Regions from separate parts of the Homo sapiens genome. Here regions 2, 3, 4, 5 and 6 are each linked to region 1. The links come from fine-mapping of genetic effects on plasma protein levels. A gene starts in region 1. Each other region holds a variant in brackets. All regions are shown on one strand. Distances are between the middles of the regions.

The links. PIP is the posterior inclusion probability: the model's chance that the variant is causal. The UK Biobank Pharma Proteomics Project read protein levels with antibody pairs (Olink). The fine-mapping took linkage between variants from a reference panel, not from the people measured, so its PIPs are less certain.
Region 2: its variant is fine-mapped to the plasma level of the CKAP4 protein (UK Biobank, PIP above 0.99).
Region 3: its variant is fine-mapped to the plasma level of the CKAP4 protein (UK Biobank, PIP above 0.99).
Region 4: its variant is fine-mapped to the plasma level of the CKAP4 protein (UK Biobank, PIP above 0.99).
Region 5: its variant is fine-mapped to the plasma level of the CKAP4 protein (UK Biobank, PIP above 0.99).
Region 6: its variant is fine-mapped to the plasma level of the CKAP4 protein (UK Biobank, PIP above 0.99).

What each region holds. Positions count from the first base shown.
Region 1 is chr12:106,245,687-106,250,760 of GRCh38, forward strand. It overlaps CKAP4 (cytoskeleton associated protein 4), which reads right to left and starts at 2,334. Exons shown (of 2, transcript NM_006825.4): 1 at 1,683-2,334. The coding sequence starts at 2,165. LOC124903008 (a long non-coding RNA gene) reads left to right here and starts at 2,586. Exons shown (of 2, transcript XR_007063443.1): 1 at 2,586-3,073; 2 at 3,985-5,074. RefSeq lists silencers at 1,480-1,569, 2,230-2,539, 2,570-2,909.
Region 2 is chr12:106,226,879-106,231,952 of GRCh38, forward strand. No RefSeq gene overlaps it. Among named protein-coding and RNA genes, the nearest start is that of CKAP4, 19 kb to the right of the region's middle. The variant G/A (reference allele first, on the strand shown) is at 2,353.
Region 3 is chr12:106,306,290-106,311,363 of GRCh38, forward strand. It overlaps TCP11L2 (t-complex 11 like 2), which reads left to right. Exons shown (of 10, transcript NM_152772.3): 2 at 4,752-4,943. The coding sequence starts at 4,787. Among named protein-coding and RNA genes, the nearest start is that of TCP11L2, 6.1 kb to the left of the region's middle. The variant A/G (reference allele first, on the strand shown) is at 1,968.
Region 4 is chr12:106,480,743-106,485,816 of GRCh38, forward strand. All of the region lies in intron 23 of POLR3B (RNA polymerase III subunit B), which reads left to right. Among named protein-coding and RNA genes, the nearest start is that of RFX4, 100 kb to the right of the region's middle. The variant T/A (reference allele first, on the strand shown) is at 1,969.
Region 5 is chr12:106,323,732-106,328,805 of GRCh38, forward strand. All of the region lies in intron 6 of TCP11L2 (t-complex 11 like 2), which reads left to right. Among named protein-coding and RNA genes, the nearest start is that of TCP11L2, 24 kb to the left of the region's middle. The variant A/G (reference allele first, on the strand shown) is at 2,101.
Region 6 is chr12:106,562,669-106,567,742 of GRCh38, forward strand. All of the region lies in intron 1 of LOC100287944 (a long non-coding RNA gene), which reads right to left. Among named protein-coding and RNA genes, the nearest start is that of RFX4, 18 kb to the right of the region's middle. The variant C/G (reference allele first, on the strand shown) is at 3,078.

The DNA.
Region 1 (5,074 bases):
CGGGTTCAAGCAATTCTCCTGCCTCAACCTCCTGAGTAGCTGGGACTACAGGCATGTGCCACCACACCCCGCTAATTTTTGTATTTTTAGTAGACACAGGGTTTCACCATGTTGGCCAGGCTGCTCTCAAACTTCTGACCTCAGGTGATCCGCCCGCCTCGGCCTCCTACAGTGCCGGGATTACAGGCGTGAGCCACCACGCCCGGCCGTGCTCTGCCAGTCTTAAGAGGAAATTCCTGGTCCTGCACACTCAACAAAAGCAGAGAGCAACTTGGCAGGACAGACAGCATGCTGGGAAAAGGAGGCAGTGGCTCCGGGATCAGAAGTGGCGGGATTTTTTGTTTCAGTCTTGCAACCAACTTTCATTGAGCAATGACATAGTGGAGGGCGAATAAGATCAAAGGGGCTGTACTTGGTATGGAAAAACCACAGAAGGGTGGAAGCTAAGCACCTTCGCCTTGAGAGTTGGGTCCATCCATACCTGAAATGGACCCCTGTGGACCCTTGACGAACAGGGCAGTGGCCTAGACATTCTCGTGTGTCTGTCACTCACCAGCTGGGGACTTTGTCAACTCATTCCTCTGTCTAAACCTCAATGTTCTGCTCTGGGAAATGAAATCAAAACTGTTAGTCCTCCCTCCCAGGGTAGTTATAAGAATTAGATAATATGTGAGTGAGTAAGCATTCTAAACACCATATAAATGTGGCTAGAAGTATTATTCACCAGTATGATCTAGTATTTTTGGCCCTCCTCTTCCCCTAAAGCGGAAGTAGGGCCGGGCGCAGTGGCTCACGCCTGTAATCCCAGCACTTTGGGAGGCCGAGGCAGGCGGATCACTTGAGGTCAGAAGTTCGAGACCAGCCTGGCCAATACGGTGAAACTTTGTCTCTACTACTAATAAAAAATTAGCTGGGTATGGTGGCACATGTCTGTAATCCCAGCTACTCAGGAGGCTGAGGCAGGAGAATCGCTGGAACCTGGGAGGCAGAGGTTGCAGTGAGCTGAGATCGTACCACTGCACTCCAGCCTGGGCGACAGAGCCAGACTCCCTCTCAAAAGAAAACCCAAAAAAGCTGAAGTAGGACTACGTCAAAGGCCCACCTGGGCAGGCTGGTCCAATACAGGACAAGGGACCTAAAGATAGATGGTATTTCATTTGGACCTGCAAATGAGTAAGAATGCCAGCTCCGGGTCTATTAAAAACCCCGCTCGGATGTCTCCCACAGGCAGAGCTGAGGTGGGGCCTTGCCTGAGGCTTCCAGGGATGCGCTGGCTTCCCTTCCAACCTCCTTTTCAGACAGCTCTGCCCATTCAGCGGTTCCTAATGCAGAAAGAATGGGCTCCCCGGAGCCTGCCGGCTTCCTTACAGGTCACCGCTAATGCCCTGTGACAGGCCCTTGGCCCACCCTGCCAGGCGGGCCTGGGCATCCTCGCGGCGGCCCATCCCTCGGGGCCGATTCCTCCGCAGCCATTAACAAAGGGGGTCTGGGGACTGCCTCGGAACTAGGGGGCCGCGTGGAGTGGGATGTCTAGGCCAGGGCCCGCCAAGGAGGAGCGGCCGGCTCCCGCCTCCGGGCCTGGGCAGGCAGCGCTAGGGGCCGGTCGGGAAGCACGAAGGAGCCCGGCCGTGGGTCCGGAGGCCGCAGTCGATGGGGACAGTTGCGGGGCCGGGGGTACCCACCTTCTGCTCGACGCCCTGCAAGCCCTGGCCCAGCTCCTCCCTCTGCCGGGAGAAGTCCTGGTGGCTGCGCCGGACCTGCTGGACCTCCTCCAGGACGTGGTGGACGCACCAGCCCGAGAAAGCGGCCGCCGCCACCAGGGCGAGGTAGAAGAGAAAGTTGAGCGCCCTGCCGAGCCTGCGCGAGCAGGACGCCGAGGACGAGGCGGCGGCGGCGGCAGCGGCGGCGGAGGCGGAGGAGGAGGAGGAGGACTTGCCGCCGCCGCCGCCGCCGCCGCGGTGGCCGCCCTTGCCGTGCGCCTGGTTCTGCGGGTGCTGCTGCGGGTGCTGCTGCGGGTGCGGCGCGGGCGGCGGCGGCGGCTGCTGCGGCGCCGGCGGCGGCTTCTTCGCCACGTCATCCGCGCCGCCCGACGGGTGGGCACCCTTCTCCGAGGGGCTCGCGGCGCCGTGGCCGCCCTTGGAGCCCCTTTGTTTGGCCGAGGGCATGGCGGGCGCGGCGGCGGCTCGGGCCGCGGGCTGGGAGGCGAGCGAGCGCGGCGCGCGGCCCGGGAAACTTGCAGGGGCTCCCCCGGGACTGGGCGAGCGGCACGCGGGCGCTGCTGGCGTCGGAGCGGCGAGAGGACGCGCGGCCGGGGAAGGAGGCCGGGCCGAGGAGGCGGGAGGAGGGGGCCTGCCTCCGCCGCCGCGGCGCCGACCCCGCCTCCCGGTAAGGGAGGCCGAGCGAGCCGAGCCGGGAGAGCTTGCCACGCACGCCGGCCCGGCGGCCCCTCCTCCCCGCCGCCACGACCCCGGAGAGGGAGGGCCGGGCGGGGTCTACGGGGGCCGGGAAGCCGGCGCGGGGGTGGCTGGGCGCGGGGCGGGGTCCCGGCGGGGTCTGCGGAGGCCGGGGTGGGCACCGAGGTGGCCGCGAGGGGAGGGGAGAAGAGCGGAGCGGAGGGGAGGGGACGCGGCCGAGGTGGGGCTGGCGGCCCGGCGGGTTCCACGCAGGCTGGGGGCGGAGGGCCAGATCGACCCCAGCCGGGGCGGCCGAGCAGGGTCCACGGGGGTCGGGGATGGGCGGCCAGGCGGGGTCGGAGGGACGAAAGCCGGGGTGAACCTGCGCCGCGGGCCAAGCGCGACCCCCTCCCTTCCCGACCTGTGCGGAGAGGAGAGAAATGAAGGGGGGCGCCCAAGGAGCCCTGGCCCCGGGAGTGGGAGTCAGCGGGTGGGAACAGATCGCCCTTCCTTTCCGCTGGGAATTGGGGGACTCCCCCTGCTTTCACTCTCCCAGCCCGCCATGGGGTTGGGCCTTGTCCTTTGCCTTGGGTTTGAAGGCGGAGACAAAAAAGGCTGTCCAAAATCCAGCCAGCTTGGGAGGCATGGTTGATGCGAGTTAGCAAAGATTCTCGACTGTGGTAAGTCTGTTCAAGGGGACGCATTCACCAAGTGTCCCCGTTAGCCAAGTTAGCCTGCTGTGGCCAGCTCTTTACTTTTTCCCCCCGAAGCCCCTTCAGCTCTGTTTTCTCTTTCGGGGTCATGAAGTTTGTCCACGGCCCCTACTCCTGACAGCCTCTGGGATGGGTGCTGCGGAGGCAGCAGCAGCCACACAGAAAGAGGCAGATCAGCGTTGTCACCCCTACTTTTGTAAAAGGAAATCTGGTATTGCCAGGCTGTGTGGTTAGCGACTCACATATGTTCTCGAAATCTCACAAAAGCCCTGTGAGGTAGAAATTATTTTACCCATTTTATAGGAAGGAAATTGAGACTGAGCGAGCCGGCTTCGGATTGGCTCAAGGTCACATATAGTCATCATTCGAACCTCACTCAGTCTGCTTCTTTCTGAAGTCTGTGCAGCTTAATCACTTCAGAATGGGAAGGAAACGGGGGCCCAGGGAAGTTAAGCAACTTGCCCACTCACTCAGTCTAATTGGTGCCGGGGCAGGGACAGAACTCACTCAATTCCACTGCTTTCCCCAGTTTCTGGTGAGTGATGTGTGCCTGGCACTGTGTGCACCTGGCACTGTGTGTAGTAGGAATGCTGTTTCTTCTGTCTGTAACCTCCTCCCAGTTCTGTAAACAAAGACAAAACCATGCCCTGCCCTTAAAGCCTATAGGGTTCAAATGCCACCTCTTTGATGATGCTTTCCCTATAACACCATTTGATACCTCTCATGGGACTTAGCAAGTAATTGCAACGAGAGGCATATATGTTAGTTCAATATAGCAAACCTTTGTTGAGGGCCCACTGTGTGCCAGGTATGTCTCCCCTCCCTGAGGACTGGAAGCAACCATAGTTTATATTTCTCCTTCTTTCTCGCTTTATAAGGTGTTGCTAAAAGCCTCCAGTGAATGAATGAACACTTGTGTGCCTGCCCTCAAGGAGCCTGCACTACACTTGGAGATATATACAGAAACCTGTTGAGGGCTAACTTAGGTAAATTGGGAACATAAATGTAAAGAGATTTGGAAAGCAAACCATTGGCCTGTACATGGGCAGGCTTTGGGGGCAGAAAGACCTTGAGCAGTGCCTTGAAGAATGATTTGCATATGAGGAGAGCAGGGAGGATATTTCTGTGGCGGAAATGGGGTGAGCCCAGGACACCTGTTGGCCATGAGGGTGTGTTCTACATGTAGAGAAGAAAGAGATGAACTGGGTGGAGCGGGTCCAGATTGCAGAAGGCTATAGAAGCCAAGCTGGCAGATAGAAGAATCGCTATTAGTGTGGGAGGACAGAGTAAATTATAGCAGGTTCTGGACTAGAAATACAACCATCTGCCCCAGACAGAGAGGAACACCCTACTTCAGCTAAATACCAGGAGCTATTGTAGGAGCCTCTAGGTTCAACAGGGCACAGGTCTCTGACCTGTGGCGCGGGGAGACAGCAGAAGAAATCAGAAGACACTCATCACAGGAACCTTGTTTAAAAACTATTCAGCTGAGTTCGGGTTGTGTTGTTAAAATCTCTAGCGCGCAAAAAGAGGTTATCCCCCTTCAAGCAGTTCTCCATGTTAGGGGCAGAGGCAGTGATAACTGGTAAAGCAGCTTGCTGCCAAGATCTGGCCTTGAAAGCAAGAGCCCTACTCCTTTAGTGCTACCAAAGTGTGTGACCTTGAGAAGTATCCCTAAACTCCTCTAGATTTCAGGGTCACCCTTTCTGTAAGGTGCATCTTTAAGGACCTGTCTTATTATTAATCCGTTTCTTAGAGAAATAGTCATCTGATCCTTATCAAAAATAATTAAATGATATTTAAATTTTTAAAAATTGATCCAGGCCAAGTACAGTGCCTCACACCTGTAATCCCAACGCTATGGGAGGCCAAGGCAGGAAGATCACTTGAGGCCAGGAGTTCAAGACCAGCCTAGATAACAGCAAGACCCTGACTCCACCAAAAAAAATTTAGCTGGATGTGGTGGCA
Region 2 (5,074 bases), 19 kb before region 1:
ATTTCTCTGGTATTTTTAATGGTACAATTGGATTTTATCCCCTTTCTGGAACAAGAGCGAAAAATGAAGAAATCATTCCTGTGATCCCTGACTCTGACACTAGATGGCAATAAATTCTCACTTCAATTATGTTCTCTGGGTTCCTACTGCCACAGTCAGCTGATTTGGGGCTATTCCCCAGCTGAAAGTTCAGGGGCTTGAGCCGCTCTGGATTTTTTACTGGTGCATCCCGGCATCTTCTGAAAGTGAATAGTCTTCACATGAGGTTATCCAAGATGTCAGCCCGGCCCGGCCAACATTCCCCATTTCACCCCAATAAATGAGAAAACATTAATTGTGACCCAGTGTGTGCCGGCCCCCATGGGAGCTACAAACAGACCCTTGGTTAAGACAGAAGCCACCCTGGCCCCTAGAGATCTGCTCACTGTCTAGTCCTTTTTCCCTTAGGCCTCCTCCTGCCCACCCGAGGCTCCAAAAGACTCTTGTGCAATGGTTAAAGTCAAGGAAAGTTGGATCTGGAAGAGAACATGAAGATTACTTTATCTCCCCTCACTTTTCAGATGGGAAAACAGATGGAGGCCCAGAGAAGGAAAGTGAATTATCCTAGGCAGCACAGCCCGGCAGGCCAGCATTCGGACCAGAGTCCTGATTCCAGGTGACTTCCCCCATCCCTGCTGTTCTTGTCACACCATGTGAGAACTCCGTCCTGGAGTGCAAACCAAGATCATACCCGTGAATGGAAGAAAACAAAAAGACCTAGCCTTCTGAGTTTCCATGAAGGACTCTGTGGGACAGGATGTGTCCTCACACCAGCAGCCACACCCAGTTGGTAATGCCTCTTTCAACACAACATCACCAGCTATTTGAACACAGGCCGGGATTTCCCCACAGCCCCATTACCCAACAGGTATTGCTCCTGAGTGTTCGCTGCCACACGCGGGGGCTTGCACAGCAAGGCCAGGCTGCCACACCCCTTCCTGCCAAGAGTGGGTTTTGCTGCCTGCAGCAACTCAACTGCCCTGATTCTTCGCTTACTTCTGAGCATTTTGCATCTGTGCTTAGGCCTGGAGCCAAAACAAATTGTGGGGGATAAGAGAAGAAATTAGGCCCTGTCTTCTTAGCCAGTTAGTGTATGAGCTTGGGTGAACAACTTCTCTGAGACTCAGCCTCCCCATCTGTAAAACAACAGAATTAGATTAGAGCCTTCTCTCAGCCTTAGCTTTCTAAGGCCTGTCACATGGCTACTTAGCTATCATTACTATGAAAAGTAATCATGCGTAAATGCAGCACTTCACGTAATATATGTAGGCGTCATTTGTTTTCTGACCTGTACTAGTTTAACTATTAAAAGTATAAGCTTTTCTCTATGTGTTTCTTCCCCTTTAAAAAAAAAAAGTTTAATTACAAAATATTTCTGACCTATGAAAAGATATCAGGAATATGGGGAGGCCAGGCATGGTGGCTGACACCTGTAATCCCAGCACTTTGGGAGGCCAAGGCAGGTGATCACTTAAGTCCAGGAATTCAAGAACAGAGTGAGCAACAAGGCAAGAACTTGTCTCTACAAAAACACAAAAATTAGCCGGGTGTGGTGGTGCACGCCTGTTAGTCCCGGCTACTACTTGGGAGGCTGCGGTGGGAGAATCACTTGAGCTGGGGAGGTAGAGGCTACAGTGAGCCAAGATCGGCCACCGCACTGCAGCCTGGACGTATATATATCACATATATATATACCATCTCCCCATATTTTTTTATTTTTCTGAACAGAGCAAGACACTGTTCAAAAAAATTGTAAAAATGGGGAGATGGATATATATGTGATACACAAACATAGCAAAGTGTTCATTATAGTATCTAAGTAGTAGATATATGAGTGTCCGCTGGACAATTCTTTCAACTTTGCTGTTTGAATTTTCATAATAAAATATTGAAAGGAGAAAAAATGTATTATGAGTGATATCATGAATACTTAGGTAGCCTCCACTCAGCCTAAGAAATCAAATGATCTGAATTTGGATATTCGGTCTCCTAGTCATTTCTTGGTACTTTCACTACAATGTATAGTATTATTTTACACGGTAAAATGTCTTAGTTTTAAGAATTAAGGAATTTCTGAAGTGTCACACTGTGTATTTTGTCTGCAGCTTATTTTTTCACTCAGCATTTTAGTTGTGAGATTCATCCCCACGATATATGAGATTAGGATTTCTTCCTTTTTGTTGTCGTTTTGAGGTCTATTGTATGAACAAGTGATAGTGGATTTACTGATCTTGTAGCTACTTTCTCGGTGTTTCCACTTTTCTTTCTTCGTAAGCGGCGCTGCTGTGCCCATTCTCTCCACGGCTGCATGTC[G/A]CCTTGTGCGCAGGAAAGGGGACACAGTGGTGTTCAGGGGCTCTGTGGAGACACACATGGCCTCTAGCACAAGTGACCTGGGTGTTCAAACTATGTCCTCAGGAACCTGTGTTTTGCCGACTCTTGGTTCTGTTTTCTTCTATGCTGGCCTCATTCTCAGTGGACTCTGCACATGTGGTGGCCTTTAGCAGCCCTGGGCATTTATCCAGCTTGGCAGTCCCGGTGGGCAGAAAGCATCCCTTTCCAGAAAGTTCCAGCAGTAGTCAATGGACTGGATGGCGACCTGTATTCCTCCTGCACAAGTCAAACCAGATTTCTGATTGGCCAAACCTGGGTCATGCACTCAGCCCAGTCAGTCTCATCAAAGCCAAATGGACTGAGAGTGGGGAAGGGGTGATTCCCTAACAGAAAACAGAGAAGTGGTCACCAAATGAAGGAGGACTGGATGCTGGGCAGGCAACAACACATGTCCAGGACCCAGCAGTCCTCATGTGGTCCCTTGACCGCTGCACAGGTCACCCTGCATGTGATTATGGTGCCATTTACATGTCTGTGTCCCCTGTTTGGCTGGGAGCCTCTCAAAGAGGAAGACTTCATCTTTCATCTCATCTCCGCTGAGCAAATGCAGCTCAGCACCCAGTTTATAATAAATGACAGTAGGTGGAATCAATCCCTTGACCAAACACATCCTGAAGACGGGGAAGGGCAATTCAACCCTCTGCCTCTGAGGTTTTAGGTCCTCCCTCTGTGAACCCAGTCAGAGGGGTATGACGAAGAAAACGTCCACTACACCTCACCCTCTCTTTTTCTCTCTGAGTTACTGACCATCAGGACAAATGCAGTGTCCAGTTCAGAAGTCAGTATGTTCTCAAACAGCTGCCCTTTATTGAACACCTACTATGTCTCACACTTTTTTTTAATATATGGCTGGGCAAGATTCATCCAGATAGGAATGTTTCCAGCCTTCTGTGAATATGCTGAAAACAACTGTACACTTTAATAGGGTGAACTTTATGGTATGTGAATTTTATCTCAGTAAAGCTGTCATTTTTTAAAAGAAATACCAAGTCTTATATGGTATGATTTCATCTCTACAAAATTCAAAAATGGGCAAAATATTCTATGGTGATAGCAGAATAGTGGTTAGGTTAGAGGGTATTGACTGAGGAGCACGGGGAGCCCCTGGTGTGCTGGAAAAGTTGCATATCTTGATCTGGTAGTGAGTACATGGAGATATCGTGTGCAGAAATTCATTCAGCCATATATTTCAGATGTGTGTGCCTTAAAGCACCAAAGTTGCACCTCAACAAAAAGTAATCCCAAACAGTGATGTCTTTTTAAGTGAAGAAAAGAAACCAGTTCTAGAGCAGTACAAAATTTTAATGGTTTACCATTAAAATGTAATGGTTTGCCATTACTTTTAATGGCAAAAAACACGATTACTTTTGAACCAACCTAATAACTCAAGCTATTGGGTTCTAAACCTGGCTACCCCACTTGCTAGCTATGACTAGGAAGTACTTTGTCCAAGTTACTGAATCGCTCTGTACCTCAGTTTCCCCATCAGTAAAATGGAGAGGCCAATAGTACCTACCCTTAGGACTATTATAATGATTGAATGAGATAATCCTCGTAAAACCTTTAGAGCAGTGTCTGGCACATAGTAAATGCTCAATAAATTTTAGTTATTTCTGTTATTATTGATGTGGGCCAAGCACAATGATCTCTGTGGATGCAGAGATGAAAGACAGAGCCTTATTCTCATGTGGAACACACCAGAAGCAAGCGGTCATGATACAGACAGAGGAGCACTTTGAAGACAAGAAGCCTGGAGTGTGGGCTCTCGTGGGAGGAGCTCCCAAATTCAGCCTGTGGTTTGGGTTGAAGGATCCAGGGAACGTGCAAAGGCACCAAGAGTGACAGAACCAGGGGCCACATGAGGGGTAGTTATGCTAATCAGGGCGGCTACAAACAGAGTTCACAGAAGAGGAGGCTGGAGGGCAGGAAGACAGAGCAATCGGAAAGCTCCTTCTTGGCCACGACCCAGAGCCAGGCTGCTCCTGAGGCCAAGGGGAGAGCCTAGGGATTTCGCAGGGAGGGGACACAGGCAGATTTACTTTTGAGAAAGAGAACGATGGTCACCCATGGAGGATTGATTCCCTGAATGGGAGCCAGGCTAGAGACAGGGAGGCCAGTTAGGAGGCTGTACCTGTCCCTCAAGCATATACTGCAGTGTGTATAATACATTGTCCTGTATGTCTCCTCCCAGCTGCATCATGAGCACCATGAAGGCAGGAACCATATCTATAAAGTAATCTCCTTAGTCTGGCAAAGAGTGTGCGCTCTCTGAATATTGTTGAATGGATACTGAGTGCATGGACCACGTTTCTGATCTCAGTTGACCAGCAGAGAGCATCGTGGGGAGCGGCTGCTGCTGGAACCCAAAAGGCTGGGAGGAGGGGACAGAGGTGGATGTGTCAAGGCCTCAACCCTAGGAGAAGTGGAGGGAGGGGAAAGGGGAGAAACAGGGAGACAACGGGTGACTCCTGAGCTTCTAGCTTAAGCAGTGAAGGGGCCAGCTGTGCCATTTACTTCGAGGGGAAATGACTTCAGTTTGGATCCGAGGGAGATTTCCGAGGGTGTTAGGGGGCAGCAAGGTGTCCAGATATTATTGGAAAAACAGATTAGTAGCTCAGAGGTATGGTCTCAGCTAGGCATAGGG
Region 3 (5,074 bases), 61 kb after region 1:
GAATACCATGTTGTCTACCTTTTTCTCAGATTCACCTATTAACATTTTGCTCTATGTGCTTTATTATTTTTTCTCTCTTGCATTTGAATCATTTGAGAAAAAGTTGTATATGTCATGGCCCTTTATTCCTAAATACAAAACCACAGTACATTTCAACTTCAGTATATTTAACATTGGATAACAGACAGTAGATTCAAATATTGTTAACAGTGCTATTGATTGACTGATACTGTCCTTTACAGCATTTTTGCTTCAGTATAGGATCCACTCTAGGATCACCTATTGCACTCAGTTATCAAGTGTTTTTTTTTCATTTGGAACATATTCTCAACCTTTCTTTGTTTTTTATGACATTACATTTTCGGAACTTGTAACTTCTTTTAATAAGAATAAAATAATAGTTGACATCCGTCAGGCACTTACTAGGAGCTTAAGTACTTGACAGATACTATTTCAGTTAATCTTCACAACACTTCTACAAGGTGGATACTATTATTGTCCCATTTTACAAATGGCGAGTTCTCTGTTTCTAGTCAGTAAATAATCAAGAGGAGCCGGGATCAAGAACCCAGTCCACCTAGCTCCAGAGGCAATGTTCTTATGGCTTCAGTGACATGTATTATCATCAGTGTATCTTTGCAATTCTGAACCAGTGCAGAACTATTTGCAGATAGAGTTGCTGCAGAAAGGAAATCAGGAAGTAAAGCTGCACACGAGCTGAGGAATCACAAGCAAATTAAAAACCAATCTCCTCTCTATCTGTAGTGAAATACAGCACTAGCCCCTTCAAGTCCTTGTACCCATTCACACCTCTTAAATGTCAGTAGTCTTACTACCATTCATTTATTCAACAATAAATATTTGAATAAATATTTGAATGCTTGCTGCATTCCAGTGATGGTCTCAGAAGAAATGACATTATATTTATTATCACAAAGTGATGGAATAATACAATCAAAAATGTGAATATGACAGTACTTTTCTTTGAATAGTGACCTGCTATCGTGTTGGAGGCTTTGCTTGGAGTCATCTTCAGTCTTTTCTGTTGACTTTACCTTTGACCAGTGATTAAATCCTCCAGGTATGATGAGATGTGATGTTTCTGAAAAGTTGTTTGATTTACTTGTGAGTTGCAGTGGCAAAGGTTAGGTAGATCTAAGTTTGCATAAGGAGTATTACCTTTCTTAAAGATACAGCCTGGTTTCATTATCATCAGTCTAAAGGATAATCCAAAATAGTTTTTAAAGCAATCTAAATATCCTCAGTGCCTTTTGAATCAAGTAGGTTTGTCCCCAGGTGACTTACTTGGAAACTCAAGACCGAGAAAGGTAAGAGCAGGTATGAAGGAACTTGCGGAAGACCATTCACACAGTGATGGGCCATTCGCTTTTGGTTTTTGTCTGTCAAACAAGTGCCAAGAGTTCTGTTCTATGTTAACTACCAGCCTTGTTTGTCTGTTGAAGAATATGGTGTTATCCTGACATAAAACTGTTCTTCCCTCCAGAGTGTTTAATTCCTGAGGCAATGATATTAACAAAAAAAAGCAAATAATAGAAAACATTTGTATACTGTTTACTGTGTCAATGACTGTTCCAAACACGCTGCATGTATTGGGTACCTGAAATCTCACACCAACCCTATGAATTAGGTATTCTTAGTAAGCCTATATGAGGAAACAGACAAATTTTTAATAGAGTAATAATGGGCATTTTGGCTTCAAATACAGGTTTCTGTTTGGATACACTAAGGCCCAGTTGTAATGTGGAGGCTTCTACCCACTAAACAAGAGTTTCTAAACATTTTGAAGCTTTTAAATTTTCCATTGCAGCCCCTGTGCCAGGAACTCTACCTCCAGTGAATTGCTGGAAGAAAGTGTAGTTTCACATTGTTAAGCATGACTGCCATAAGCACATTTAATTTCTCAGAACTTCTAGTGATGCCTCATGGAACTCTGGGTTTGGAGCATC[A/G]TATATTCCTTGCTGAGAGAAACCTTATGACTGGCCCAACCTCTCAGAAAAATGTGCATAAAGTCACACGGCACATTAATGATGAACCCAGGCCACAAACCCTGGACTCCTGACTCCCAATTATTTTAATCTTTGCACTTTTCTGCCTTGTTAAACACAGTTAAGAAACCTACCAAGTGTGCTATCCAGCTAAAGTAGAAAAATGAAATGGACAGTTAAAACTATTAAGCTAGTTCATAAATTCTCATGGCTGGAAGCTCTTATTCAATTTCACTTGGAAAAACAGCCAGAGCTCATTTGAGGGCAACCGAAGTAGAGAAAAATTAAGAGCAGAGCATGCATAGCACAGCGGTTACATTACAGGGGAATAACTGGGGGAAAAATGACTTAAAGTGGAAACAAACTTTAAGATATTCAAATAAGAGCATGACAAGGACCTGAGAATCTTGAGGTTTAAATCTAATAAGATAGGCTTAAGCAGTAGATTCTCTGCTCTAAGGCTTGGGCTTTGGCAGTACCAGCCTGGTTAACGTGTCATGATATCAGGTTGCAAATGTTCTGGTTGAAGCTGTACCAAATGAGATTCAGGGATTCTGATTTAGCTGACACTGAATGAATACTTGTCATATACTTGGCGCTGGTCATGGACAAGACACAAACTCTGCTTTATTAAGGAGATTCAGAAGTAGCCATGGGAAGAAAGGAACAAGGAACTAATGTACAAGGAACTAAGCGCTGTCATGGAGATACAGGAGACGCGCTGCAGACATACCAAGAGGAGTGCTATTCACTTTGGCTAGAAGCAAGGCTTCCTGGAGAAGGTAGCATTTGCAAGAAATGCCATCAGTGGGACATCAAATGTTGGCAAAGAGAGGAAGCAAACTAGAGGGGAGGGTGAACATTCCATTTAGGATTTGGGGTTTGGTGGCAGTGAAAGGTTTGAAGTAGCCCCTTTTCTTCTGTCTTCTCTCGCCTTCCCCTGAGCAGATTGGAGTTTAAGCTCAGGTAGAATTTAGTCTTCATGAGTTAGAGGAGGCTGTTTCACCACTGAGGATGCAAGGGCTCAAGAATCTTATAGCCAGTGTTCATGGCTTTGGGATTCTGGGATAAGGTGAGTGTCTCCACTCCACTCCTTGCCCTTCAGCCTGCACAAGTGGACTCTAGTGGTTTTCTGCTTGCAAAAGTGGTGGGCTCAGCAAGGATACATTTCTGTGGCAGGATTGAAGACGGTTGTTTAGGTGAGGCAAGGCGCAAATGACCTTAGACCTTTCACCCTTATTAGATCCCTCTCAGACTCATCCTTGTCCCCATCACCATCCAAGGAATTAAAAAAATTACTCTTTTTCTCTCAACAAAGGCTAGTGCCCCTTCTCCCGCTCTGCTAATCCTGAGCCTGCCTCTCCTTTCTTGTGTTTTCTCAACAATGCCTTATTCCCCCTTTTCCCATCTAGTAGCATTCAGTACACAGTTTTAGGTAGCTGGACTTGAGAACCACAAGAATAGGGCATTGTCTTTGTTTGGTTACTTTCCCCGGTGCTCAGTGCTCAAGTAGGCACTTGTTGAATATTAATGGAATCATTGAAGAAACTGCAGGCATTTTCAGACATACTATACATAGTTGTGGTTTCCCATTCTGGCCGCTTTAAAAGCACTGCATCCCTCATTGCATGGGCTGGTTTAGGTTTAAAAGGATTCAGTGAACTCTTCCTCTCATTATTGTCCATCCAGGATTTGAGGTGCCTTTCTCCTTGAGCCCGGGTTTCCCCTTCAGTGTCAGGTGATACCATATTCACATCAAGGTCAGCTCCCTCACGGGCCTGGCTGGTGCTCCTGGGACCAAGGCCTGGTCATCCTGTGTGCCTGTGATCTGCTTTCTGGGTAGTGTCCAAACCTGACGGCCCTTCCCTGGAAGGATTCTCATGTCCCAGAAACACTGGACATAGACACCAAGGGACTGGTTTTATCATGTAGTAAATCCCCTTATCCCTCTGAGTCTGTTCCCCCACTTGTGAGTCAGGATCCTACATGCTTGTGCACTCATAGGGTTGTGATGGGTACTTTGTAAATTGTCAAATCCTAACCATATATCAGGTCTTAATCTTCATATCACAGCAGTTCATGTGGAAATGGAGGGGGAAGAAGCTAAAGACTTGCCAGCCAGAGGTTTCATGCGGTCTTCCCCTTTCCCCAGGAGGTTCACAGAAAGCGTAAAGAGGCTGATTTCACAGCTATTTTATCTGAAACAAAGCAATAGGAGCAATAATAGCAGCTAACATTTGAGTACTGTGCCAAGCTCTTTAAGATGAATTCTATTCAATCTTCTGGCAACCCAATGAGAGGTTAGTCTTTCAGTCCAGTTTCACTATGAGGTAGGTAGTTAAGTGACCTTCCCAAGGTCTCATGGCAAAAGGCAGAACAGAACGAGAGATCTGACCCAAGTCCCACACTCCCGCCTTCTCATGTTTCAGCAACCCAGGAGGAGAGAGCATGTGTCCTGCATCTTTTTAAAAAGGACCTGCCATTACTTAGAGCTTCACATTTATAGTGGGTGTGTCCTGAGTAAGCTCACACCTATGGCTGTGGAATCCCTTTTCAGAAAGGCAATCTCGATGACCTAGTGATCTGGCCTAGTCCGGCCAAGGTGCTGGGGGAAGGATGAGGTCATCTGGGGGCCTTTCCAACACAGTGACACTTGTGGGGACAGTTGTCTACACTGGAAGAAGCATTGGTGGTGCCTGTGGAAGTACCACAGAACATTGACGCAGGGTCTGTTTGTCTGTGCAGGTGCTACCTTTTTACCCACACTTAAGTGACGCAAAATGCCCTTCAATGGCGAGAAGCAGTGTGTGGGAGAGGACCAGCCAAGCGATTCTGATTCTTCCCGGTTTTCCGAAAGCATGGCTTCGCTCAGTGACTATGAATGCTCCAGGCAGAGCTTTGCAAGTGACTCCTCCAGCAAATCCAGCTCTCCTGCTTGTGAGCCGATGGGGGAGCAGGGGTTGTGGGTGGCAGGGGTACTTCTAGATATGTGTTGGATTTGAAAACTCAGAAACGCCTGAGAGCAACAGACTTCCCCTCCTTTCTAGATGCACCAGAATAGCACTGCA
Region 4 (5,074 bases), 240 kb after region 1:
TACTATTCTAGGCTCTGGTCACAAGCAGTAAACAAAATAGATTAAAGTTCCAACCCTTGCGGGGCTTGTGTTCTTGTGGGCAAGAAGGAAAATAGTAAGTGCTGAGGGAATGATATGTCGTGAGATGAGAAAAGATTGAAAGCTGGGAGGGGGGATGGGAAGCATGTGAGGGGAGGGCGTGTGGTTAGTGATTCAAAGTTTAGGCAGAGTGGTTGGGGAACAACACCATGTTGAAAAGATGGCATTGAGTAAAGATCTGAGAGAAGTAAGAGGGTGAGCCCTCTCTGGCTGAAGAGCATTTGAGGTGAAGGTTTTGCAGCTGTAGCTCACCTAATAGAAGACCAGCAAGGAGGCCCCATAGCTGGAGCAGAGTGAGAAGTGAGGAGGCAGCCATGAGGCTCATAGGTCACTGCAGGAACTTTGGCTTTTATTCTGAGGGAGAGGGAAGCCACTGGAGAGGGGTTTGAGCTGGTGAGAGAGATGATCTGACTGACACTGGCTGCTGTGTTGAAAGAAACTGCAGTGGTGCCAGTTCAGAAGCTATGTGAGAGTTGGAGGTGGGCTGGAAAAGCATAACGATGAGGAATTGGTGAGAAGGGATCAGAGTCTGGACACATTTTGAAAGTAGAGCCTCCTGGAATTGCTGATGGATTGGGCGGCTTTGACTCAGTCTTCTTGCTTTCAGCTTCGCTCCTCACGCTGCCTTTTGCAATACTAGTACTTCGTGTCTCTGTCTTCTGAGCCTTCCCAGGAATCGGGTGGGTGAGTGGGGGTGGCACCAAAGGCCATGTCAGCTCACCTCTTCACATCTCATCTGCAGGGACTTAGTATTACTCTCCTGTTACTTTTCTTTCCTCTCTTTATCAGCTTTCAAAGTTGTAGAATTATCTCATGCCCACTGATACCACTGTGCCCATTCTTTCTCCTTACACGTAGGTTTACACCTTAATTTTTTTAAACTCAGTGAAGTTTAGAGAAGCAGTGTTGATAAACACATGTGTTTCATCTGTCATGTTTAACTAGAAATCTGTTTATTATTTGTGAATATTCAGCACAAGAATGTTTAGTGAGTATGCTTGATTTTTTTCAATGCAACTTATAGAACTGAAAATTATTTTAATAAAAAATGAGAAGGATTTTTAGAGCACTAACCTTTTGTTTCCTGACCAGAGCCTTGCCTCTAAGACTTCTTGGGTTTGTTTGTTTGTTTGTTTTTGTCTATTTTAATCAATTCTCAGATTGAAAATTAATTTTAAAATGTTTAAAGCTCACACCCTGAGAATTATTACATAAATGCTAACAATCATCAGAGAAGCATTAATCATAGTTTGTCAGCTCTTATCTGAAAATAATTTATCTTTCTTCTGGATCATTGTTGTAACTAAGGTCTACAACTTTGGTCCTCTTCTTGAATGTCACCCATCTGAAGCCAGAGGCATGACAGTAGTAAAAGTCTATTTTTTGAAGTTTTATAAATAAAATTCTAAAGATTCAAAGATACCAATAGTTTTTTTAAAAAATAATTGTATATGTTGTTAAATATCCAGAATACCTTGTTGGCTAACTTAGTGTGTTATTCCATTCTCACACTGCTATAAAGAAATACCTCAGACTGGATAATTTATAAAGAAAAGAGGTTTAACTGGCTCACAACTCTGCAGGCTGTACAGGAAGCATGGCTAGGGAGGCCTCAGGAAAGTTACAATCATGGCAGAAGGCAAAGGGGAAGCAGGCACATCTTACACGGCCAGAGCAGGAGGAAGAGAGAGAAGGGGGAGGTGCTACACACTTTAAAACAACCAGTTCCTGTGAGAACTCACTCACTATCATGAGAACAGCGAGGGGGGAATCCACCTCATGATCCAATCTCCTCCCACCAGGTTCTTCCTCCAACACTGGGGATTTGACACGAGATTTGGGTGGGGACACAAATCTAAACCATATCACTTAGGTAAGTATATTTTAGGT[T/A]CGTTGAGATTAGGAAACATGCCCTGCTGATTTACTTAACCCCAAAGCACCCAGCATAGCACTTTGCATATAATATGGTATCCACTTATGATGTTTGAGGAATCCTTTATTAAATAAAGGATTTTACATATTCATTGGTCTTGTTGGAAATTGTACTGACATAACAAGCCAAACTCACTACTCCCAGAATAAGTGTAATTTATTCTTCCTAGTAAATATCAGAAATGAGATGCCTCATTTTTATCTAAACTGGCACCAGGAGTTTCAACACCTAAGACTCATAGCTCCCCAACCCTAACTGATCACACAGGCCCACTAAAGCTTCTTCAGCCATAATAACTAAATATAGTTATCCCTCAGTATATGCTGGGAATTGGTTCCAGGACCCCTGCATATATTCAAGTCCCACAGTTGGGCCTGTAAAACCCAAATATATGAAAAGTTGTCCCTCTGTGGAGAAGGGCTCACATTCCGCAAATGCTGTATTTTCGATTCATATCTCATTGAAGAAAAATCCCCATATAAGTGGACCTGCACAGTTAAGACCTGTGTTATTCAAGGGTCAACTGTATACATGCCCACCCACGTCCATCCCAGGCACAAATGAGAACCTGCCTTGACAGCCCCAGGGAAACCTATTCGGTCATTTTTAAGTTACTGTTGTGGGCTCAAAACTGTGTGGGGCACTTTAGGGGATAGAAAGTAAATTAATCCCTTGACTAATGCCCATGAGGAGTTGACTGACACCTGAAGCAAAAAGATGGATACGAAGGATTACATAGTTAAATGCTAAATTATATGGGAGAAACCACTAAAAATATAGAGGTTTAGAGTTTACCATAGATAGGAATAGAATCTTAGAGTTTGAAAAGTCCTTTTAGAAGTCCAGTCTAAATCCATCTTCTAGTATAAGAGTTCTTTTTAGATTATCTTTGGCAGATGGTTTTCCATGTTGATTGTGGCCTGTGAAGGGAGGCCCTTGCTATTTTCTGAGGCAGCCTCTTCTGTAGTAGCACTGCTCTGATAGTTTTCTTGAGTCAGAGGTGCTCAAGAGTTAGTAAGAGTGCTCAAGAGTCTATAAGTTACTGCAGTTAGTCCTGCCTTGTCTTGTGGGCCATACTGAATGAACATATTGCCTTTTCATCACAGCCATCCTCTGTTCAGTATTTAAAGAAAGCCCTCGGATTGACGAAAAGTATAGCAGAGAGAGAAAGGTCTTGAACTCCAACTAGGTGAACTATTTTGTCCCTTTATGTCTTGGCCTCCTTGATACTAATGTGTAAAAGCAGGGAACACAGTGCCTGATGCACAGACAGGAGGCAGTAAAGGTGAGCTGCGGGCAGGTCTGTCTTGGGTCTTCTCTTGCAGGCTGCCTGGTAAAGGAAGCCCTCAGAGACTAGATGGGGTTCAGGCTTAGAGGGCTTTGATAAAGATGTGAAAGAAAAACAGGGGGCAGCAGAGAAGAGCAAATGAATGGACTTGACTGACTGAAATAAAGACAGCATAAAGAAGAAAAACCACGGGGACTGTGGTTTTAATCCGGTAAACGATGGCACCAATCACAAAGCATTTGTGTCTCACTGACTTGAGATGGTGAGATGATGGAAGATCATCTCGAGTGCCTATATTGTTGATTAATTCATCCATTTATTGAGCTTTCACTGTGTGCCAAGCACTGTTCTAAATACTGGAAATACAGAGGTAAACAAGACTGATGGGGTCTCTGTTCTCCCGGGATTTGTGTTCTCCTTGGGGAGGAAACAGACAAAAAAGAAGTAAACAAAAATATAAACCCCAACTACTTAGTAGGCTGAGGCAGGAGGATCACTTGAGCCCAGGAGTTTGAGACCAGCCTGGGCAGTATAGCAAGACTCCATTTCAAGAAAAAAAAGTGTAAACAAAAATATAAACAGGATAATTGAAGGTAATGATAAGTGCCATATATGAAGAATGATATAAAAGAGTGGATGGTTTAGAGGTGGGGGTGTGTACTTTAGATTACGATCAGGAACAGCCTCTCGGAGGAAGCGACATTGAGCTGAGACACGAAGGATACAAAGGAGCCAGCCGAGCAAAAGTCTGGGAGGATTTAGTTATAGGCAGAGAGAATCATTAGGGTAAGAGTTCTGAGGCACGAATAAGCTTGGTATATTCAAGGAACAGAAAAAAGGCCAGTCTGGCCAGGCATATGCCTGACAAGCAGCACAGTATGAGACTTGGGGAGTGACAGAAGGATGATGGGGGCATATCCTATAGGGCCTTTTGGCTAAAAGAAAGGAGATTGGACTTTACTCCAGATATGCTGGGAACCAACAGAACCGTTGGATGGTGGGTGTCTTGGTCCATTTTCTGCTGCTATGACAAAATACCACTGACTGGATAATTTATAAAGAAAAGAAGTTTATTTGGCTTATGGTTCTAAAGACTTGGAAGTGGAGGAGCGTGGCACCAGCATCTGGAGAGGATCATCCCGTGGCAGACAGGCAGAGGGGCAGGAGAGCTTGCTTTTATAACCAAACCAGTCCTGAGATAAGTAACCCAAGTCTGTAATAATGGCATTAATCCATTCATGGGAATGGAGTCCTTATGACCTAACCACCTCTTAAAGGCCCCATATCAATTAAATCTCAACATGAGTTTTTGTGGGTACATACAAACCATAAAAATGAATATAAGCAAAGGAGTGACGAGATCTAACTTACAACTTCTAGAGCTCACTGTGGATTCTATATGAAAAGTGGATTGGAACGGGCAAGGAAGGGGGCAGGGAGACCATTGCAGTGGTCCAGGCAAGAAAGGGTGGTGGCTTGGACTAGGACAGCAGCAGTGGAAAAATAGAGAGAAGTGACTGGATTCTGGACATACTCTGGAGATAGAGCCAACAGGACTTGCTTATGGCTTGGATGGATGTTGCAAGAGGAAAAGACAGGAGTTGAGGATGAAGTTTGTGGCCTGAGCAACTGATAATGCTGTTTACCAAGATGGGAGCAATTGGGTAAAGAATAGTTTTTTGGCATTAGACAAGGGCAGAGGTTGAGAGTTTGGGCCTCAGGTTGAGATGATTAGACTCCAAGTGAAGATATAGGCTGGCAATTGGTTATAGAGT
Region 5 (5,074 bases), 78 kb after region 1:
ATTAAATTAAATTAATAAATAAATAAAATTTAATTTAATTTAAATTAATTAAAATTTAAAATGTTAAAGGTTAAAATGAAAATTAGGTGATGTTTTCATTTTTGACTTCATATATAGTATCACTAAAGAATTTTGGCCTTTCTATTAAACATTTTTTTACCTTCCAAAATTGACATCACAAACTTACAGTTGTTTATTCTGTCCAGGAACTGTGCTAAGCACTATTCGTTTCTTCATTCATTCAAGATATATTTATTGAGTGCCTCCTGTGTTTCAGACACTGCTTAGGTGCAGTGGATACTGCAGCGAACAGAATGGAATACAGTTGCCGTCCCCAAGGAGCTGACATTCTAGTAGGCATGACAAATAAATAAACATATATTGTCAGGTGTATTATTAAGTGCTATGAAGAAAAATAGGATAAAGGGACAGTAATGGGTCAGAAGTGAGGACAGCATTGTTTTTTAGATGTGATGGACTGGGAAGGTCTCTGTAAGTAACATTTGAGTAAAGTTTGCAAAGAAATGAGGAAGGGGCATGTAAAGATGGGGAAAAGAACGTTCTAGCCTGAGGGACTGCAGGTACAAAGGCACTGAAGCAGAAACTGCTTATGAGTTTGACAAACACAGGGCAGACATTGTGACGGGAGTAGAGTTGGTAAGGGGAGAGTGGTAAGAGATGAGGCTGAAAAGGAGATAAAGGCAGGTCACATAGAGCATTGTTAGTAAATGAGAGGAGTTTGGATTTCATTCCATGTGCGGTGGAAACTCATCAGAGAGTTTTAATCAGGGGAGCAACATCTGATTTTCATTTTTGAAGAATATTCTTGTTCCTGGCTACAGAATAGGTCATGTGGGAACAAAGAGGGAAACAGAGGTACCAATTAGGTGGTATTACAGTTGCTCAGGCAAGAAATGATGGTGGCTTGTTCCAGATGGTAATGGTGGAAGGAGTGAGAAGAGACCAGATTCTGGATACATTTTGAAAGTGGAGTAATCAGATTTGCTGAAGATTGGATAAGGGAGAAAAGAGTTGAGGGTGACTCTAAGGTTTTTGGCCTCGTACAACCGGGTGAATGGTCATACAGTTTGAGTGAAACTGGTGAGACCAGGAGAAAGAAGGTTGGGAGATGACATGGAATCAAGAGTTCAGTTTGGTGATGTAAACTTTTGAGATTTCATTTGACATCAATGTGGAGATGTTAGGTAGGCATTTAGATATGAATTATGAGTTTACAGGAATAATGGAAACTGTATATGTATTTGGGAATCATCAGTATATGTATGATATATAAAGCCATGGAACTGGGTACTAGTTAACACTTAGAAAATCCTTATCACACTCTAAGTACTTTACCTGTACAAACTAATTTAATCCTTGCAACAACTATATGAAGTTACCCCCCATTTTATGGGTGCGGAAACTGAGGCACTGTGAGGTTAAGTCACTGGCCTATGTAACACACTTAAAAGTATAGGAGCTCACCTAGGAAGGCAGCTTGGCTCCATAGTCCATGTTCCTGTCCATTATATTACACTGGGTGAGACTACCTAGGGGGAGTGAGTGTGGACTCTGAAAGAAACTGACGTGGGGCACTCCAGCAGCTAGAAGCTGAAGTTGAGATGAGGAGGAGGGTCTAACAATGGAGACTATGAGGGAGTAGCCAGAGAGGTAGTGTGACAGTCAGGAGAGGCGGGTGTCCTGTAAGATACGTGAAGAAGGTATTTGGAGAAGGAAGGCATGTTTGGATTTGACAAGCATTGCTAAGTGGTCAAGAAAGACACAGGCCAACTTGACCATTGGATTTGACTGTTTGATGATGGTCAGTAACCTTGATGAGAGTGGTTTCAGTGGATTTGTGTGCATTAAAGCCAGACTGGGCAGGGCACAGTGGCTCACACCTGTAATCCTAGCACTTTGGGAGGCCGAGGCAGGCACATCACCTGAGATCAGGAGTTCAAGACCAGCCTGGCCAACATGCTGAAACCCCTTCTCTACTAAAATCTAAAAATTAGCCGGGATGATGGCAGGTGCCTGTAATCCCAGCTGCTCGGGAGGTTGAGATGGGAGAATCGCTTGAACCCAGGAGATGGTGGTTGC[A/G]GTGAGCCAAGGTCGCATCATTGCACTCCAGCCTGGGGGGCTGAGCAAGACTCCGTCTCGGAAAAAAAAAAAAAAAAAAAAACCCACACACACCAGACTGGAGGGGGATCAAGGAAAAATAGGATTAGAAGAAATCTTAGCTCATCAAATCTTCACAATTACCAGTTACCCAGTGAAGTAGGTACTGTTATTCCCTTTATCTTACAGGCAAGGAAACTGAGATGCCAGAGGTTGCACAGCTGCAAGAGGCTGGCTAACTGCTCATTGGCAAACTCTTGACACCAGCCTCTGGGGTTTAATTAACCACTATTTAAGGCTGAGTTAGGTGGTTTCTGCCGAGATAATCAACACAATGGCCTTATATAAAAAAGACAAAACAGGCGCCACATTTAAAGGGGCCCTGGCAGGCAGGAGCACATCCAGGGGAGAGCACATTGATCATGGAGGCCACCTGAGGAACCGTCGAGGAAGCTGGGCATGTTCTGCTTGGTAACAAGGAGACTCAGGTGGGCCATGGCCCCATCCACCCTCCCTGTTGACAGCAACTCAGAGACTGGTGAAATTCTGTAGGGCAGACTAGGATTCATGAGAGGGAGGAAGCAGACAGCTGGTTTTGACCTTCCTGATAGTTGGAGCTGTTTTAACTTTGGAATGGGCCTATTATAGCAGTAGTCAGTGCTAGCTAACATTTTGTATGAGCACTTACTACATGCTAAGTCCTTACTGTACCACTTTAGTAGTCTATGCAAGCATCACACTAGCCCTATGAGGTTGGTACTGTTATCACCCCCTAATACAACTGAGGAAAGTGAGGTTAAGGTACTTAGTCTAGATGACTACTAGTAAGGGGTAGAGCCTGGGTAACCCAGATGTGTCTCTGACTCAAAGCGTGTGCATTTAGATACTGTGCAACCCTGCCTCTCTTCAAACAAGATATCAACTGTGGGGGATATTGCAGAGGGATCTCTCACATCATCTGGCAGATTATTTAGTCATCTGGATAGCCAGTTATCTAGTCAGATAACTTTTAAGTTTTGTTCTATAACAAAAACTCTATGACTCCAAGGGCTATGTTGTTTTAGCTTCAAAGGGGAGGGAGTAAAGTGAAGTAGAACCCTACATCGAACCTGGATCTGAAACCTCAACTGTGGCAACTGTCCACAGCAGCATTTCTCTGAGACTTAGTGGTTGCTTTCATTTGTGTACCTGTGTATGTAAGCACATGTACAAATGCACCCATATCTTTCATCAAGATAGCTTGGAATCTTGAGCAAATTCTCTAATAGGGTGAATTATGATTTTCTTCATCTCAAATTATTTGCCTATTTTTTTTCTGTTTTTTTTCTTTCCTTCTTTTTTTTCCCCCCTGTTTGTCTTTAAGAGACAGAGTCTCACTCTATTGCCCAGGCTGGGGTGCAGTGGCATGATGATAACTTACTCTAGCCTCCAATTCTTGGACTCAAGGGATTCTCCTGTCTCAGCTTCCCAAGTAGCTAGGACTACAGGCATGTGCCACCACGCCTGGCTAATTTTTAAAACATTTTTTGTAGAGACGGGGGTCTGTGTTGCTCAGGCTGGTCTCTAACTACTGGCTTCTTCCTGCCTCTCAACTTGCTGGGATTACAGGCATGAGCCACTGCACCTGGCTTGCTTCTCTTTTTAAAACCCAGGCTTAGTGACCTGTAATCCATTTGCAACTTTTCTATTGACTTGGATATTTTCAGAGATTTAAGAATAGAGCAAACCCAGCTTTGCATATAGGTCATTATTGCTTAGCAAGAGAAATCAAGAGTCCCAGAAGCAGAGTGTATGTCAGCTGTTAATTATGTCCCCAAGTCACTCTGCCAAAAGTCAGCCCCTGTGCCCTAATATCAAAATAAGAGCCTCAAAATGTTGGATTTCTGTGTACACATGATTATATAAGAATTATTAGAAAATTAATACAGAGAAGTACTCTAGATTTCTGAATTGGCTCCAGGAAAATATTTTATTTTGCCTAAGAGGAGATTTTATATAATTGCCTATTTTAAATATAGCCAGGAGAACCTTAGGAATGATTATCTGTACTAAGTAAGTAGCAACAAGATAACCACATTAGATCCAACATGTAAATTATCTGTGAAAATAGCAAGAGATTATCCCTGGGTGGGGGCCATAAGTAATTTTTAAGATACCCAGAAAGAAAGGCTTTATTTAGACAATACGTCATATCTGATCAAATGTTTTCATGAACTTTATTTCATGTTATTCTTTAAAAAAATTCTGTGGGACATAAATATCACTTTCAGAATATTTGAAACTCTATTGTGATTGCCTTCACCTGTCACATGAGGGGTTCAAGAAATATTTATGGAATATTTTAAAGAAGAGCAAACTGATGCTCAGTGATGACCTCCTTAGACTCAGAATCATTCAGCTAAGTAAACAGTGGAGGCTGGGCGCCATGGCTTACGCCTGTAATCCCAGCACTTTGGGAGGCCAAGGCGGGCAGATCATGAGTTCAGGAGATCGAGACCATCCTGGCCAACATGGTGAAACCCTGTCTCTACTAAAAATACAAAAATTAGCCGGGTGTGGTGGCGCGTGCCTGTGATCCTAGCTACTTAGGAGACTGAGGCAGGAGAATGGCTTGAACCTGGGAGGCGGAGGCTGCAGTGAGCCGAGATTGCGCCTCTGCACTCCAGCCTGGGCGACAGAGCAAGTGTCTGTCTCAAAAACAAAACAAAACAAAACAAAAAACAGTGGAGCTAGGACTGGAAACCAGGTCTCCCAAATCCAAGTCCAGATTAAACCAAGCTGCTACTTTTTCAGCCTTCTTTGAATTTTTCAGTTTTGTGTTATATTACCTGAGTTGTATTGCAAGGAACAGAAACCAACTCTAGCTGACTTAGCCAAAGGGAAGTGAATGGAAGGATGGAGGAAGTTTGCAGAATCAAAGGAAAAGCCAAAATGTCAGAAATCAGAAGAATGTCAC
Region 6 (5,074 bases), 320 kb after region 1:
TGCCAAGATAACATCAGAGTAGGCACTGTAGCCAAGCTGGGTAGTTAAGAACCGGTTAACAGTGGGTACAAGTAAACTGCTCAGCCCCTTAGCATTCCTTCCTCCCTCTACCCTGCTTTATAGTGACTCCTCCTTCACAGACAAATCTTGAAAACAAGGGGGTCCAGATGGAAGTCCAAACTGTAACATCCTGAGCTCTCTCTTGCTCTCTTTCTCTCTGCTCCCTCAATGCCAAATTTATCAAGAAAGATAGAAGCTAGGGCTTATGCTTTAGCCTTTCTCACTGGCTCAGGCATCTAGTACCTCTAGGACGGAATTTCTCAACCTTAGCATTATTGAAATTTTGGCCAAATAAGTTTTTGTTGTGGGAGGATTTCCTGTACATTATAGGATTTTTAAGTGCATCCCTGGCTTTTACACACTAGAGCCAGTAGTAATACTCCTCCACCCTCCACCACAGGTGATGACAACCAAAAATTTCTTCTGTTGGGGCAAATTTACCCCAGGTTGAGAATCTCTATTCTAGAAGAATAGGTATAGGGCCACTGCATTGCAGTGTGACAGCTCTGAATTTGAACTCCTAGGAAAAAAATATACTCCTGGGTATAATTAGCCACTGATATAAGAGAAAAGCAACTAATGGAAAAATCTAATCTTAGATAAAGCAAACTTAGCAGACCAGACAGAACAAGAAAGCATATTAAACAGATAAGAAAGGATACTGTGAAGCCAAAGGCATAATGAAGCCCCAAGAAGAATTTCTGAGTATAAAAAATTGAAACAAAAACTCAATGGATTGACTATTGATTAGTAGATTGAATAGCAGAATACATAGATAAGAAATCAAAGTAGTGGAGTATTAGTTCCAGATAGCATCATTATGGGTTTTATAGTTGTAATATAAAAAAGAAAAGAGATATGGAAAATAGAAACAGAAGCACCAACATTCAATTAATAGAAGTCTCAGAAGAAAAGAAAAAATAACAAGAGTAGAATATTTAAAGAAAGAGTAAACAGAGAATTTCTCAGATTAGAGAGGTTTTTAAGACCTCAAAGTACAAGTACTCCTAACAAGATAAGGAACATAAGAAAAAAACATACCTAGATACATGTTCATATCATTTAAGCACATCAGAGACATTGAGAAAATTCTAAACACTTCGAGATACAAAACAAATTGCCTGAAAAGGAACAAGAATCACCAACATCAGGTTTCTCAACAGTGACATCTACAAGGAAACCACAGAGTAATATTTTCAGTATTAAAGTAAAAGAACTTAGGACCTAAAATTCTAAATCCAGCTAAACTATCATTTAAATATGATAATTAATAGTAATATTTAATGTTAATAATTCATGTTTGCCATAGAAACACCCTCTTTGAAAATATTCAAGGAAGTGCTCTAGCAAGAAGGAAACAAGGAGGATGTGGTCAAAAATGGAAGGGTGAATAAATAATTTGGTAAATTCTGTTGTAAAACTCAGCAACCATTACAATGAAATAAGCAAACAAAACATGTATGTGACAATCGATAATTAAAAATGATTAGATAGATTGAAATGTCTCTTGCTTGAAATTATACATTCAATTTTATTCTTTGGGTAGTCGTTCATAACTTACTAAAACAAAAACCTGGTTTAATTTTACCCTTTCTAATGGCAAGTAGTAAGAGGAAATAAAAGGAACAGAAAGTGTGGTAAATAGAATACATGAAAGGAAGGTCATATGTATAAAATTCACTAGTATAAAAAGATAAAGATGCAGAGAGGATTAATATCTAATGTTATCTATGAGAGAAACACTTAAAGCAAGAGAATACAAAAAGATAAAAAATACAAGAAGGGAGATAAATACACCAGAGAAATAGGATCTTAAAGAGAGCAATTTTATTATCAGAACAAATAGATATGTGACAAAGAAGGAAGCTTTATATTTGTAAGGCATATTTCAACAGATATATGATCACACCTGTATATTCACCTAAGAAAGCACTGAAACACATATTTTTAAATGACAATTGAAAGAAATAACTAAGTCAGCAAGTATAGTTGGTAGTATGAGACACACAAGTGTAAGCATTTGTCATACTCATGGAACTGTAAATGAGATCTGTGCATTTCACTAAATGTAAATCATCCCTTCTCTCAGTTCTAGTCCTCCAAGAAGCAGGAGACAAAGCAAGATTAGACATGCAAGAAATGTATTGGGAGAAAAATTCCTGTGAAGGGTAAAAAAGAGTAGAAAAAGATGGGGAGAATCGTCACATGGTAACGCCTGACTCATATCTGTGAAAGGAAAGGGGGAAGGAAGAAAGATTAGGTAGGACAACTCTCAGTCTGCAGCAACGTTCTAAAAATGGTTCAGCCGGGCAAACGGGGGGCCTTCAGACAAAGCTTGCATTCTGCAAGAATGCACCGGCGCTATTACCACTACTGTACCCAGTCACTGGGAGCCATAGGTAAGACTGTGATGGTAGCCACAGAGAGGCAGCAGCAGCAGCTGTCAGTCAACCATGCTCCCACAGCAGATTCTCTTAAAAGAGATCTGAGTCACACGTCTACCTGACTGCCACATACCTCAGCAAAGTTATGAAAAAAAAAATCCAATAGTGTTCCTCTATACTAGCAATAACCACGTATAAAACAGGATAAACAAGATAGCATTAATAATAGAAACCAAACCATAAGTTCCTGACTAAATTGAACAAACTAAGGCAGACTTTTACCAACAAACTTAAAGGACATATTTTTTTAAAATAAATGAACAGATTATTCCATGTTTATATGTGGAGTGACATGTAAACATACTGATTCAACTCAACAATTTAATGCAAGTTCAACTGAAATTACTCAAAGGGCTGGGCATGGTGGGTCACGCATGTAATCCAAGTATTTTGGGAGGCTGAGGTGGAAGGATCGAGTGAGCCCAGGAATTCAAGAGCAGCCTGGGCAACATAATGAGACCCCGTCTTTAAAAAAAAAAAAAAAATCAAAAAATTAGCTGGGTGATGGTGTGTGCCTGTAGTCTCAGCTACTCAGGAAGCTGAGGCAGGAGAATCAGTTGAGCCCTGGGAGGT[C/G]GAGGCTTCAGTGACCTGTGATTGTGCCACTGCACTCCAGCCTGGGCAATGGAGGGAGGGAGGGAGGGATGGAAGGAGGGAAGGAAGGAAGGGAAGGGAGGGAAGGAGGGAAAGAAAGAAGAGAAAGAAAAAAAGGGGGTAGGGAGGGAGGAAGGAAGGAAGGAAGGAAAGGAAGAAAGGAAGAGAAGGAAGGGAGGGAGGAAGGAAGGAGAAAGAAGGAAAGAAATTGCTCAAGGATTTTTGATAAATTTGACAAATTTCTTCTAAAATAAATATATATGAAAAATTTAATTCCATGAACCACTAAGCCAGTTTTGAAAAAGAAGAGAAAGGGAAACTTGCTTTACCAGATATAAAAAATGTTACAAAGACATAGTGATAAAGGTAGAATGGAACCAGGTCAGGAAGAAGCAAACAGATGAAAGAAAATGACTAAAGAGTGCCTATATGGGAAATTAGAGTATGATTGTGGTGGTGCCACACACCAGTGGGGAAAATATAGATTATTTAACAGATAGTTGCTGTGGACTGAATTATGAATTGTGTCCTTCCAAAATTATATGTTGAAGCTCTAGCCCCCAGTGTGACTGTATTTGGAGGCAGGGCCTTTAGGAGGTAATTCAGGTTTAAGGAGGTCATCAGAGTGGAGCCCTAAGCCGACAGGATTGGTGGCCTTATAGGAAGAGGGAGGAGCTTCCAGGTTGGTGAATACCTTGAGATTTGGGAGGGTGGCACCCAAGAGAAGACATGACAGTTCTGGACATACAGACACGCGCATCCCCCTGCTTCCCCACAGCTTGCCCTACACATCTCTTCCATTTGGCTATTCCTGAGTTGAAATGTCCATGTCTGTTTCATCACCATCACACCAGCATTAAAAACTACCTTTATAAAAACTGGAACCAATTTGGTGGGTTCAATGCCTTGTTGGTCCTAGAACTGTCTATGTGACAGCTGGGGTGGGGGTCAGACTGCAGGGCATCACCTGCACATGGGTCACCTTGGGCCAGTTACAGGATCTGCCTTTAACTAAGAGGCATGAACAAGAGACAGAATCCAGCAGCTGGATTGACTGATCCATCTCTCACTGCCCCCAAGCAGAGGAAAAGGGTTTCTAGAGTCGTGGACCATGCTTTGAAATGCTTTTCTTGGCAAAAGAATGTGTCAGCCATCTAGACCACAAAGATACCAGGAAGCATCTGTTCTGCACTGAATAGCATCTGCGTCTTGAATTTCCTCTGGATCATCTTGGGCCACTCCAGTTAGATACCCATACGGCTGTCTTTGGGTGTGGAGAGTGGATGAGCCTTTATGAGCAATCAAGGAAGAATCTTTTGTGTGGTGGGATCCTACTGGGGAGCCTTCCCCACAAGCAGCCTCCCTACTGTTTTAGAGAACTAGACCATGACCTTCCATAAGTGTGTTTTCCAGGCCAGTGTGCCATAGCTGCTTTAACTCCTGCTAGGTATAAATCAGGCACCTGGCTACAAGTGATACCTGGGTGTTGTATTTTTATGGTCCAAGGAGTTGAGTTTCTTCTCACCATGATTAATGAAGATTTTTCTCCCTGAAAAACAGGCAAGCATACATAAATTTTGTGCACTAGTATTAAAAAAAAAGGGAGAAATCTCTTTCTCTATCTCCCTGCCCACACACTAAGGAAAGGCCATAGGAGGACATAGCAAGAAGGTGGCTGTCCACAAGCTAGGGAGAGAGCCTTCACCAGACACAGAATTGGCAGAATTGAACATCTCACCTCAGGAACTGTGAGAAAATCATTTTCTGTTGTTTAAACCACCCAGTCTATGGCATTTTTTAATGGCAGGACAAGCTGACTGAGACATGTTTTGATGGAAAAAGAATGGTTAACCATACTGGAAAAACATTGCAAAACAATACAAAGGCGAACTACAGATGGACTAAGTGCCTAGATGGAATGATAAAAGGTCAAGTGAATGAAAGAAAAATGAATGTAATGCTGGAGACAGGAATTCTTA